Linked DNA regions of Homo sapiens: region 1 is linked to region 2. Evidence: fine-mapped expression QTL. Tissue or cell type: tibial nerve. Region 2 holds a variant in brackets; the other region holds the start of a gene. All regions are shown on one strand. Distances are between the middles of the regions.

The links. PIP is the estimated chance that this variant, and not a neighbour inherited with it, causes the effect.
Region 1: LINC02511 starts here. The variant in region 2 is the best candidate, but not a certain one, in a credible set for the expression of LINC02511 in tibial nerve (GTEx, PIP 0.55).

Annotation. Positions count from the first base shown.
Region 1 is chr4:137,210,138-137,216,478 of GRCh38, reverse strand. LINC02511 (long intergenic non-protein coding RNA 2511) reads left to right here and starts at 3,680. Exons shown (of 4, transcript NR_149105.1): 1 at 3,680-3,742.
Region 2 is chr4:136,797,049-136,803,389 of GRCh38, reverse strand. LINC02511 (long intergenic non-protein coding RNA 2511) reads left to right here. Exons shown (of 4, transcript NR_149105.1): 4 at 5,156-6,341. Among named protein-coding and RNA genes, the nearest start is that of LINC02510, 390 kb to the left of the region's middle. The variant G/A (reference allele first, on the strand shown) is at 3,361.

The DNA.
Region 1 (6,341 bases), 410 kb before region 2:
ATAAAATACTTCCACCACATGATCTATTCTCCCTAACTCTATTTTCCTTTGCTTCATCATTTTTTATATGTGGTCACATGGGAACTCCAGATAAAAGGGGAATCTAGGAAACTTAATTTTGACTTTCTGGTTTCTATAGAACACATACTAGAAGATTGAAGTGAACTCTGAGTCAGAATATCCACCTTATCTGACACATCTTGGCTTTTAATATATTCTAAGTTTTACTGGAGTAAAATGCATTAAATAAGGATAAAATAAACAAAGGAAGACCCCACCTAGGCCTATTTTTAATGTTTATAAATATGTGCCATAAGAATAGACTACAAATATCTACATTATGCAGTAGTATTAACTTACATTTACATATTCTATGCTCTTGTTATGTGCATATAGTATAACCTATATTATGTAAGGTAATTAGTACAAAGAAAAAATAATGAGTATGTGTGGGATATCCAGAATACATCAAGAACTCTCACAACTCAACACCAAAGAAAAAACAACCCAATTAAAAAATGGGCAAAGGACTAGAGTAAACATTTCTTCAAAGAAGATATACAAATAATCAAAAAGTACATTTAAAAAATGCTTACCATGGCTAATCACTAGGGAAATGCAAATTAAAACCGTAATGAGATACCACTTCACAAACATAGGGTAGCTATTATAAAAAACAAAAAGAAAAACAAACAAACACAAAACCTCATAAAACAGAAACTGTTGGTGAGGATGTGGAGAAATTTGAACCCTTCTGTATTGCTGGTAGTAATATAAAATGGTGCAGCCACTATAGAAATAGTATAGACGTTTCTCAAATTATTAAACATAGAATTTACATGTGATTCAACAATTCCACTTCTGGATACATAGTTAAAAGACCTGAAAGCAGGGACTTGAATAGATCTCTACACCAATGTTCAGTACTCACAGCAGCCAAAAGGTGGAAACAGCTCAAATGTCCACTGACTGAATGTGGTGTATACAATGGAATATTATTTATCCTTATAAAGGAATACAATTCAGATACATGCTACAACAGGAATAAACTTTAAAGATATTTTGCTAAATGAAATAAGCCAGGCACAAAAGACCAAATATTGTATGATTCCACTTGTATGAGGTACCCAGAGTGCTCAAACTCATACACGCAGAAAGCAGAATGGTAGTTACCAGGGTCTAGGATGGATGGCAAGTTGTTTGCTAATGAGTTCAGAGTTACAACTTGGAATGAAGAAGAAGTTCTGAAGATTAATAGGAGTGACAGTTGCACAACAATGTGAATGTGAATTATACACTTAAATATAGTTAAAATGGTATATTTTATGTTAGATATATTTTACTATAATGAAAAAGTTTATGTGTCATTTAATACTGTGGTTGAGATTATTTTGTTTTAAAAATTTAGAATAGTCTTTTAACTTTACATAAAATTTGCAAATATATACTTCTTTAACTCACAGGTAGTTTACTGTATTGATAATATCTTCTATTGATATGCTACATTTGTAAAAAATAATGAAACAATGATGATATATATTAAAGTTCAAACTTTGTTAGGATTTCCTTGTTTTTACCTAATGTCCTTTTTCTGTTCTAGGTCACCAGCTAGGATACCATGTTAACATTTAGTTATTATATCTCTTAACCTCCTCTAAATTGTGACAGTTTTTCAGGTTTTCCTCTTTTTTAATAACCTTGATAGTGGTGATCAGTACTGGTCAGGTGTTTTGTAGAATATCCCTCAATTTGGGTTTGCCTTGTGTTTTACTCAGAAACTAAGGATATGGGTTTTTGGGACGATCACAAATGTAAAATGCCATTGTCATCACATCACATCAAGGCTATATTCTATCAACATGCCTTATGAAAGTTGACTGTATTCTATCAACATGTTGATGAAAGTCTTTTACCTGGCTAAAGTACTCTTTGTCAGGTTTTTCCTTTGTAAACAATGTTCTTCTCTCTTTCCATACTGTGCTCTTTGGAAGAAAGTCATTATATGCAGCTCATACTCAAGCACTTGTAAGTTGCACTCTACCTCCCTAAGGAAGCAGTATCTACATCAACTATTTGGAATTCTCCCGCACAGGAGATCTGATTAGTCCCCTTCACTTAAAAAATATATTCAGTCATCCATTGATATCAGGATGGAGTCATGGATATTTATTTTATACTTTGGATTATAATCCAATACTCATTTTCTTCTACAAACCACTCCAGATTTGACCACTGGGAAATCATTTGCTTTTCTCCTGTGTCTCTTTGATATGTCCTCATCATTTTTAAAAATCACTTCCTTACTTTCTGGCATTGCAAAGATGCTCCAGGCTCATCTTGTATATTCCATGTCCCAGCCCTTGAATTAGTCAGTTCTCTAAGGATCCCTGATACCTTTTATTGGGGAAGGTAAAGATAATGCAAACCAAGATCTGAGCACTGGGTGAGTTTGCTGCTACTGCAGTGTCACAGTGTCTAGACTCTTCCGGCCGAGAGAGTTTGGAAATCTATGTGTGTATACTAACCTAATACATGGGTGTATGCACAGGCTACTATACACATATATCTATAACTTTCACTATATATGTCCACCTGTATGTATATTATGCTAAACATATGTTTATATTTAATTCGATGACTCCAACTCTAATCCAATGTTGTGTGAGTCATTCTAGACTTCTTCCCTTGCTTATCTATAATCTCTCTCTTCATCGGTGAGAAACATGATTCCCACCATCTGCTATTCATTTACTTGTTTGTTCAGTTCAAGTATACATGTATAGTAGTTTCAAAATTGTTAACATGTACTCCTTTGAAAAATGAACTTTATCAAATAATGTACAGTGTTTATGTATAGTTCCTTTTGCTTTTAGTCATTTAGATTCCACTCTATTCAAAATTTAATTAGGTCAGCACATTTTCCCTCCACACTTGAGGAGTTATTTTGTAAATTGGTCTAGGAAGTTCTCTGCTGAGGTGACTTTTGATGAGCAGATCTGAACTGAGGGAGGTAATAAGCCACATGGAAATTTGGTGATATAGCACTGCAGTTGGAGAGAACAAGTTCAAATGAGGAAGAAAGGGAATTGTAACAGCATCACAAAGGAATTTAGTTTGGATGTAACTATGAAGCTTATGGAAATTAATAGGTAATATTTATTATCCTAAACCATTAGTGGGATATTGGAATAACACACTGGTTTTCAAAAATCATGAGCTTAAGAATTATCTAGGTGCTTGTTAAAAACTTAGAACATTCTGAAACAAAATGTTTTGCTTAAAAAAGCTAGTGTCTTTAGACTAGCAAGTTCTAGTGTCTCTAGAGCCTTATTCTCATTGTTTAGCTCTACAAGAGGAATAACAACTATTACAGTTTCTTATGTATGCATTCAGAAATATGAGTATAGCATGTGCTGTTTGTGTAAATAAACTCGCACACGTTAAAGATTTTGTGACAAAACAGAGATTAATGGATGCCACACCTCAAAGTATCTGATAGAATACATTTAGTCTGGGGATAAGAATCTGCATTTTAAATAAGCACCCTAGGTAATAGTGTCTCAGGTTGTCTAGGAATCAGACTTGGAGAAACACCAGCTAAAGCAGTAGGAAGCCATCAGCTGTGTGAAGTAGAAATAAGCATAGAGCCTAGAGTTGACTTTAATGGTGAACAATGAGCAATTGTGCTGAGAAACAAAGGAGAGTGGATGAAGAACACAGCAGCCTGCCTCCACAGCTTTGGGTAAGCAGAGATCAGGAAAGCTCATCAGTGGAGAGGATCTTTTCAAACTCAAATTTTGTAAGCAAATTATGTGTCTGAAGATAGGATAAATTTATGATTATAATTTACATTGTGATTATTAGAGGCAGTATAGCATAGTGCTTTTGGAGCGAGACCACTTAGGTGGGAATCCTGGCTCTGACAATTACTAATGATACAACCTGGGAAATTACCTTAACATGTCTCTGCCTTTTCCTGTCCATAAAATGGATATAACAATAGTACTGACCTCACAGGAGCATTAATTCAGTAGCACTAGGTTCATAATAAGAGATCAAAGAATAGCAACTCTTATATATTTGGTTGCTTGTAAACATGACGGTGTTTATTTGTGTAGAGTATTTTACTTGAAAATGGGTATATGTCTAGGCCTATATCATTGAAGAACTCTACATTAAGTATTCTATTTAGCCTTGTCAGGCAATACAAAAATATATCATGAAAATATATTTTGCTTTAATGGAAATACTAGCTTATTCTTATTCTATGAGACTGTGCATGAATAGAGATGCTAGATATAATATGAAATAATCTACTCAACTAAAGATGGTTAGTTCTTTAGTTTTCAGGTGTAGAAAGAACAAACAATGTAGTCATTTTAACGTGACCTAGATGAAATTTCAGGAGAGGTCTTGAAAGGTGATAGATGTTTAATTCTGGATAATATTCACCTTATTGGTTTATTTGAAAGCAAAAGGACAGTCTAGGATTATCTAGGATCTTTCCAGCATGTCCTAGATTAACTTTTAAAGAATTTTCTCAAAATATTTAACCCTGGGAAAAAAAGCTTTGGGTTCAATAGTCTAGTTCACAGTTCACAAATAATTGGTTCTGGGTGCAAGCTAGAAGTTTGAATTTATGGTGTTCTATAAATATGAAATTTAAGTATTAACTATTGTTCCATCTGTTATCCCTCTAGAAATGATAAAATGATAGAAGTTCTAGTCTTAGGGAAAGTTGTTTCATGTGATGGCAGAGAAATTGGCATTTCATCGGAAGACTACAAAACGTGGAAAAAAAAAGATTATTTCGCCAAGGTGATATTTCTTCTCCTGAGTAGAATCATCCATCTCCTTTCTATGTGGTATGTTTACATACCAGACACACTTGATGGTTGGGTGTTGCTGTTATCACAGTAGGAAGATTTCTCACTGAACCCTATGCTTTCTGGAAGTAGGTCCTTCATGGTTTCCACTGTGCTTAGTGGGCCCAATGCTAGAGGCTTTCTAATCCAGTTTCCCTTTTGTAAGGTAGAGGAAGAGTTATTACCTAGAGAAATGCAATAGAGAATATGACCTTATGGTTTCAATACCCTTACTGTAGACATTTGACCAATCCATCTTTCAGTATCAAGCTTCACCTCCACCTTCCCCTTCAGCCAGTGACTTCAGTTCCTGAGCCTTTCTATAGTTGTGCTTTATGAACAGTTTTGCCTCTCACTGTCTTCTCTCACTGCAGTCAGTTTTTCAGCTTTCTCTGTTCCCTTTCCTTTTTCATCTTCACCTTGTAAAAAATGTTGAAATCTTGTCTATCTTGGTTGCCTTTCTAGTTCTATTTCCGTTTGTGTATTTATATGTATATTTTTAACTGATGTAATGGAATTTGAAGTGTGCGCAGATATAAACATATATATTCAACATCCCACGTTGATTCTGAAGTAATCCAATAAAATACACACTTCTATTGCACAATCCTCATTTTGTGTGCATATAGCTACTAAAATTATAGATTAACTCATTTGTCAAAATTGCCTGCTGAAATTATATTGTTTATTCATTTAACTGAATTGCTTAGTATGAAAATAATTCAGAATCTTAAAGAAGTCTAATAGCAAATATTTTTTATGAAAAGTATCCTTATGATCTGGCATTTTTATAAAGAGACTAACCATAATTTTACTTTTTGCTTCCTTATCTTTCTAGGGTTCTCAACTTTAAAAATAATATTATTTTTGATAAACAAGCACCACACTGTTCATACAATTCTTTTATGTTTTTTTCTTTTTGTTTCAAGGACTCTTTCCATTTTTCCCATTTATCTATCGAAATCCTAACTATTCTTCCAAATACTTAAAAAACACCATACGTTTTCCACTTTTTTAACCAGTCAATATATCTCCTTGCTTTAAAACACCAAGACAAGTTTTCAATTCATCGAATCTATTAAAATCTCACTGACAATATCCTAGTCCACATCTGCATTGTCTATTTCTTGAACTATGGTAGGATATTTATGTATGTGTGTGTGTTTATTTTTTTTTTTTGCCACTAATCTTTCCCTCTTAAAGCATTCCCTGTTCTTCTATAAGAACTATTCTCCACATAACTTTTAAAAATCATTTCCTTTCCAAACAACGTATCTTGTTTTGCTCACAATTACAGAATAATACCAAGCACTGCAACATGGATATTCTTCCAGTTTTGCCCTTCTGGCTTCTTACACTCCTCCGTGTCTTCATTCCTACATCATGATAATATCTTTGACTCCAGGAAATGCTTGTATTTCATGTACAAATAGGTAAAAATTTACTAATAGAAAATTAATATTTCTTCTGACAATA
Region 2 (6,341 bases):
AGAAAGAGAACATTCCTTTTACTTTTGAACTCTTCTGATTTCATCTCTCAGAGTGGGTCTATTGTACTGGTATTTTTTAGGGAGCACTCAATACTTTTAATGTGCCTTGAGGTTGTCATAGGAGAGAGAGGAACAACAGACGGAGCGTGAATGATCCTATGACACTGGTTTTTGGTGCTTTTTTTTCTCTCAAAATTTATTTTATTCTCAGCAAAACAGTTAATAATGACATTTGAATGTGAAATCCGGGACTTTATGGTTCTTGAACATGAGTACAGAAATTATAGACCAAAGGTTGTGTTATGTATAGAAGGCAGTTATATAGAAACTGTAATTTCTTGGTGTGCAAGGGAATTCATCACAAGCATCCTCTGAGGTAGTATAATACATCATCTTCAAAATTGACTGGAAGTTTAATGGACATAGACCACAGTAATTTAAGAGCTTAGCATTTTTTCTCACATTGCAATTGTTGTGGAAAAAAAATATCATGTGGGTGTCAACCCACTTCTACTTAATCTTAACTCCAAGTAAATAAAATTGGAAAAAAAAACTTTTTTTTTTTTTTGGAACGGAGTCTGGCCTTGTCGCCCAGGCTGGAGTGTAGTGGCGCAGTCTCGGCTCACAGCAAACTCTGCCTCTTGGGTTCACGAAATTCTGCTGCCTCAGCCTCCTGAGTAGCTGGGACTACAGGTGCCTGCCACCACACCCGGCTAATTAAAAAAATAACTCTTAATATAGACAATAACAAAGTGATCCAAAAGAAACACTTAATACAAACAACAGTTAAAAGGAAAAATATTTACAATAACAAAACATAAAAACCCAAATGTTAGAGAATGAGGATGAAAATCAATAAAAGTACATTTATCATTACATTTAGTATACATAGAATTGGCTGGGCATGGTGGCTCATGCCTGTAATCCCAGCACTTTGGGAGGCCAACGCGGGTGGATCACAACGTCAGGAGTTTGAGACCAGCCTGACCAATATGGTAAAACCCTGTCTCTACTAAAAATACAAAAATTAGCTGAGCATGGTGGTAGATGCCTGTAGTCACAGCTACTCGGGAGGCTGAGACAGGAGAATTGCTTGAACCCGGGAGGCGGAGGTTGCAGTGAGCCGAGATCGTGCCACTGCACTCCAGCCTGGGTGACAGAGCGAGACTCCGTCTCAAAAAAAGAAATAAAAAAAGTATACATAGAATTAAGAAAGATTGTGGGCGAGGCATGGTGGCTCACACCTGTATACCAAAGCCTATCATGAGCCTAAACTGAACTCTTTGTCAGGTTGTAGGCATTTATGGACTTTTGGGAGAGAACTGAGGTGCCAGGGCAGACCTTCAAGCAAAGGAGATTAGAAGCCTCTTGGGAAAGAAACAAAGTCCTGAAGTAGAACTCTCCAAGGAGAGTCTTGCACACCTGCCTGAAATCACAAGATGGTAGCCTTTCAGTCTCTGGGTTTTATAAGTGCTATCTGTTGCTTAAAATTCACATTTATCCCCATCTTCACTATACCATGCCCCAACACCTACGGGCTCATGACTGACTTTAAGATCGAGATAAGTCTGTAAATAAAAACTGAAAAGGGTGTTTTTGTTAAATTTCCATTATATGTCTAGAGAAAAATTAGCATTGTTTTGAAACTCATCTAGCATAGTGAAACTGCAAAATGTAAGAGAAACATCACTATCCCTGTATTGGCATAGAACACAATACTGTATTCAGGAAAACTCTGTAACTCATTCTAAAGGTCCAGGGTCCAGCATTCTTGTTCCAAAGGCACGGGGTGCCACAGCATAGCACTGCCTCATATAATGATAATGAAAGCAGATGCTAAAAGCTGGTGTCATTAAACGGTTGAGTTTGTTTTGTAGAAACAGCTCAGGAACAAATACTGATGACAGTTTGCAGGCACTTTCAGGGAAGAGTAGCTTTAATAAATGAGTATGATAAAAAATGATTTGCATTGTAAAACAAGTATTTTTCCTTTAAAAATTTAATTTAAGATTTCTACATTCTATTCTATAATTTTCTGTTTTGCTGTAAGCTTACCTTACTTTTATATTACAAAATGTTAAAAAATAATATTATACTAGCAAAATTTTGGAAAGAAAACTTGCCCTAAGTTGAATCTTCCTGCTAGTTTGTGAAGAAATGAAATAATTGCTCTATGACAATAGATTTTGTTCTACACAGTGTCATCCAAAATCAGAAAAATAGTGCTATATTCAACAACTATTTGTAATGTTAATTCAAAAACTGCAATCATAGAGACGGTTCAGGATCAGGACAGTGTTATTTAATATTGTGTTCACATCACTGAATTTTTGAATGGCACTAAATTGGGTGATTTGTCTGAACTACCTGGTTGTTTTGGTATCATGCAAACATCTTGCTAAAGGGACTCTATTTATATGCTCTCTTGTGATGAAGTTGGGTTATACATTACTATGAGCAATTACTAATAGCATATTAAATTTTAAAGACCGATTTTATCTACCAAGTCAGGAGAAGTGATAGGTCATGAATTTAAAATAGGAAAGTAAACATCCAAGTTTTTTTTCAAACTTGACTTCCATGTTTTAGCTGCAATTTCTTACCCTTATATAATACTCTCTAAAATAGGCAATTTACTTCATCAAGGCAATAATTTAACTAACATTGTGTTTAACCTCTAATGACCAAATATACAAAAAAGAAAAAATACCCACAAAGGTAAGTATTCTTTAGGCTTAGCAAAAGTGACTTGCTATTAATATTATTCTCAATTTGTTTCGAACCTGTTGAGTTGAGCAAAACGGCATGAATGAGGTCCTAGCTGAGATTATTTATTGAAGCAAAAAAAGAATTAGAAAGGGTGGTGACACATATATCATTGCCACTGTTACAAACAGCTTCGAAAATCCAGTCTCAGTTGAGTATATTAAACTCTATGAATGACTGGGCAGGCAAAATTATAGTCCACTAGGATAATTATAGTTCACAGTCATATCTAATGGGATCTGCATAAATCAGGCTATTGTTTGCCACAAAGTGTATTTATACTTGTCAAATGATTGTAATTGGACATTTACAAAGGACCATTTCAATTTATAAACATGACTTTTTAAATGAATATTTATAAAGCACTTGTTAAAGAAAATAAATTTACTCAGGTAATTTTGAACTGTGATTTTACAGCATGTAATGTAAAACCATCTCTTACTAAGAAAATCTCCACTAAGTGTCTGTTGATGGAAAACCTCAAAATTAGATAGAGAAAAAATCCTTTCAGTGGTTCACAGCGAAAACTTATTTTGTAGTATCAAAAACAGTAGCGTTAAGTTTAAATTCCAAGCTGTGGGACTAATTTTTATG[G/A]CGGGAATAGCACCAAGCCTATATACAATGGCACACAGATGCAGATCCCTTATCTATACAACTTACATAAAGCCTATCAGATAATTCTACCTATATTTTAGAACTTTGCAAAAAAATTGAGTACTAATTTATTCCAAAATAATGAGGAATTATGAAGTTAAGTAGGTCTTTTAGACTACCACATATTCTACTATGGATAACTTCTTTTATTCAGACTTTAAGTTTTTTCATCTTATTCAGTATTACACCGTTTACTAGTAAAAGGATCTACAAAATAGATCCTTGTCACAGAGCCTTTGACATTACCTGAATTGAGGTGGAAACAGCCAATATAAGGACTTCATTCTATCAAGTCTTTGACCAACCACTTACTCTGTAGCTAATTTTATTAGTCTGATAATTCTATATATCATAGAACACATCGCTGGAAAATGTACCCTGTCATTTATTACTAGCATATGACCCACAAAATTCTCCTTGGATTTTGATTCCTTTCAGTTGGGCTGGACCATCCGAAGCTTAGAAACACCCCATGAAAATAAATTTAAGACAGATATGCTTCTGTGGCCTGTTCTTGCCCTTTATCCATCATGGGCTCTGCTTGGTTTTCTCTTTATCATCTAAGGTTGGATATCTCCTCCAGGTTACACAGGACATAGCAGTTGCTTGAGATGGAACAATCTAAAAGCAAATGATGTAAGTTAAAAGAACATACAACCTGATATAGTTTGGATATTTGTTCCCTCCAAATCACTTGTTGAAATTTGATCCTCAGTGGTGGAAGTGGGGCATAGTGGGAGGCACTTGGGTCATGGGAGCAGATCGCTCATGAACAACTTGTTGTCACCCTCAGGGTAATGGGTGAGTCGCTCTATTAGTTCCTGGGAGAACTGATTGTTAAAAAGAGCCTGCCACCTCCATTTTCTCTCTCTCCTTTCTCTTTTGCTTCTAATTTCTTTTGCCACGTGACCTCTGCACATGCCAGCTGCCCTTTGCCCCCATCTCACCGTGAAGTGAAATCCTCACCAGAAGCAAATGCTGGCACCATGCTTCATGTACAGCATGCAGAACTATGAACCAAATAAACCTCTCTTCTGTATAAATTACTCAGCCTCTGGTATTTCTTTATTGCAATGCAAATAAACTAAGAAATGGCCATTTCAGTTCTATGTATAACTGCTTATTCTTACTGGCAAAACTTCCCCTTCCAACCAACTCTGCCCATTAGAGTGATCCAGTTCTGTTGCTGAGAAATCCATTTTTCCCTACATGTGCAATGAATCTTAACCTCTTCAGGAAGAGGAAAGGCAGTTTCCTATTTTCTCTAGAGATTAGGATGTCTCCCACCTCACCCTAATATCCCAATTATATTAGGAGCGTATGTTTTCACAGTTGCACTAGCATCTATTCCACTTTCTTCTTTGTACATCTTTCCCATTTGTTTTACTACCTAATTTACTCTCATCATTCAAGATTCAATTAAACCAATATATTGTGTTGAAATATTATTCTCTCAAGCACATCAGATACTCCTCTCTGAAATTTCTGCATTATGGTGTTGATCAAACTTTTTACCGTATTCTTAAAAGCTGCATTTCCTACAATGAGATGCTTTGTCCAGAAGCCTGGGTCATTAAACTTTAGCATCTAATTAGCAAATTTTCAGTATATGAAGAGTTCGTGATAATTCTTGTGAAGGCCTCAATTCCTAAGAAAAATATGTCACCTATTTTAAAACTTGAATATAGTTTCCATGTTGCATTAGCCAATTAACATGATTTATCTAAATCCGCAGATAATGAAAGAGAGGCACCTGACTCAAGCAATGGATGTCGGAGCAGAAGACTAGAAGGCAAAGCAAGTACATGCTACCTGTCTGGGCAAGACCTTTCAGTGCCTTTCCATATTTCAATGGGTAGTCATCTGCACACCTTCCAGTCTTTTCTTCTGTATTGCAAAGGCTAGAAGCCTTGGTACTATATTTATCAAACTTACTTTTTTTTTTTTTAACAAATCTTCAATGTGATTCTCATTTTGCTAAGATACATTTGTATGAAATTTTGAGATAGAAAAGTATGAATAAGAAAGCATTGCCTTCTTTCTCAGTGGCAGCACACAAACATATGGACTTCACAGACACGACATTTTGCAGCAACTTCTAGATCTTCCCCCTGTGAGTGCCCTGGGACATCATTACAATAAATAAACCATTCAGGAAGTCAAAGGATGGTAGTTTTCACAGAAGCATTGCAAGCATTGAGAAGAAAAATAATCCATATCTAGTAGGTTTATTTTTATGAGGATAAATCTCTGGCCTCTCCATATGGAAAAGGATCTCCTGTAAGTTAATCCTGCCATCAGGTTGCTGGCTGGTTTGCCTGGGATATAAAGCCCTATTAGTGAGCCAGTGGTGACCTTTGCTGCTGTCTGGTTAGATGCGCAGCAGCACTGCAGTCACCCTTTCTGAGGGAAAGTTCACGTTTTGAAGCCTAGGTAGAAATTCTCTCTGTACCACCATGGTTTCACTGAATGTGAGTCAATTGAGGCATCACCAGGGTGGCAAAAAGTTATCAAGTCAAGCCCAGTCAACTCAGAAAATTCATCTCAGAATTCCATTTTACGTCAATTTCCTGGCATAATGTTGAAACACTCTGCCCTTTAGTATCTGGAACAATGTCTAACACAATAATGCTTAACGCCGGGGAAATGAGGGCATAGGTCTGAATCTCCGGAGATTCCTTTTATGGGGAATATCTTTTAACACCCCTTAGGAAACAACATCAACTCACTAAAGACAGTACCAATAAGGTCTCCTGCCTTCCCCAGGAATAAAGATTTAAATCACACCAGCTCAATGCTGGTTGAGGGCAAGGGAACAATGAATGGCTTGTGGAAGGGGAAAGTTAAAAATGCAAATTACAACTTTGTGCCCCATTTAAGGAAAGAGAACTTGAATAGCTATGCATATTTGTGTTTTCTTC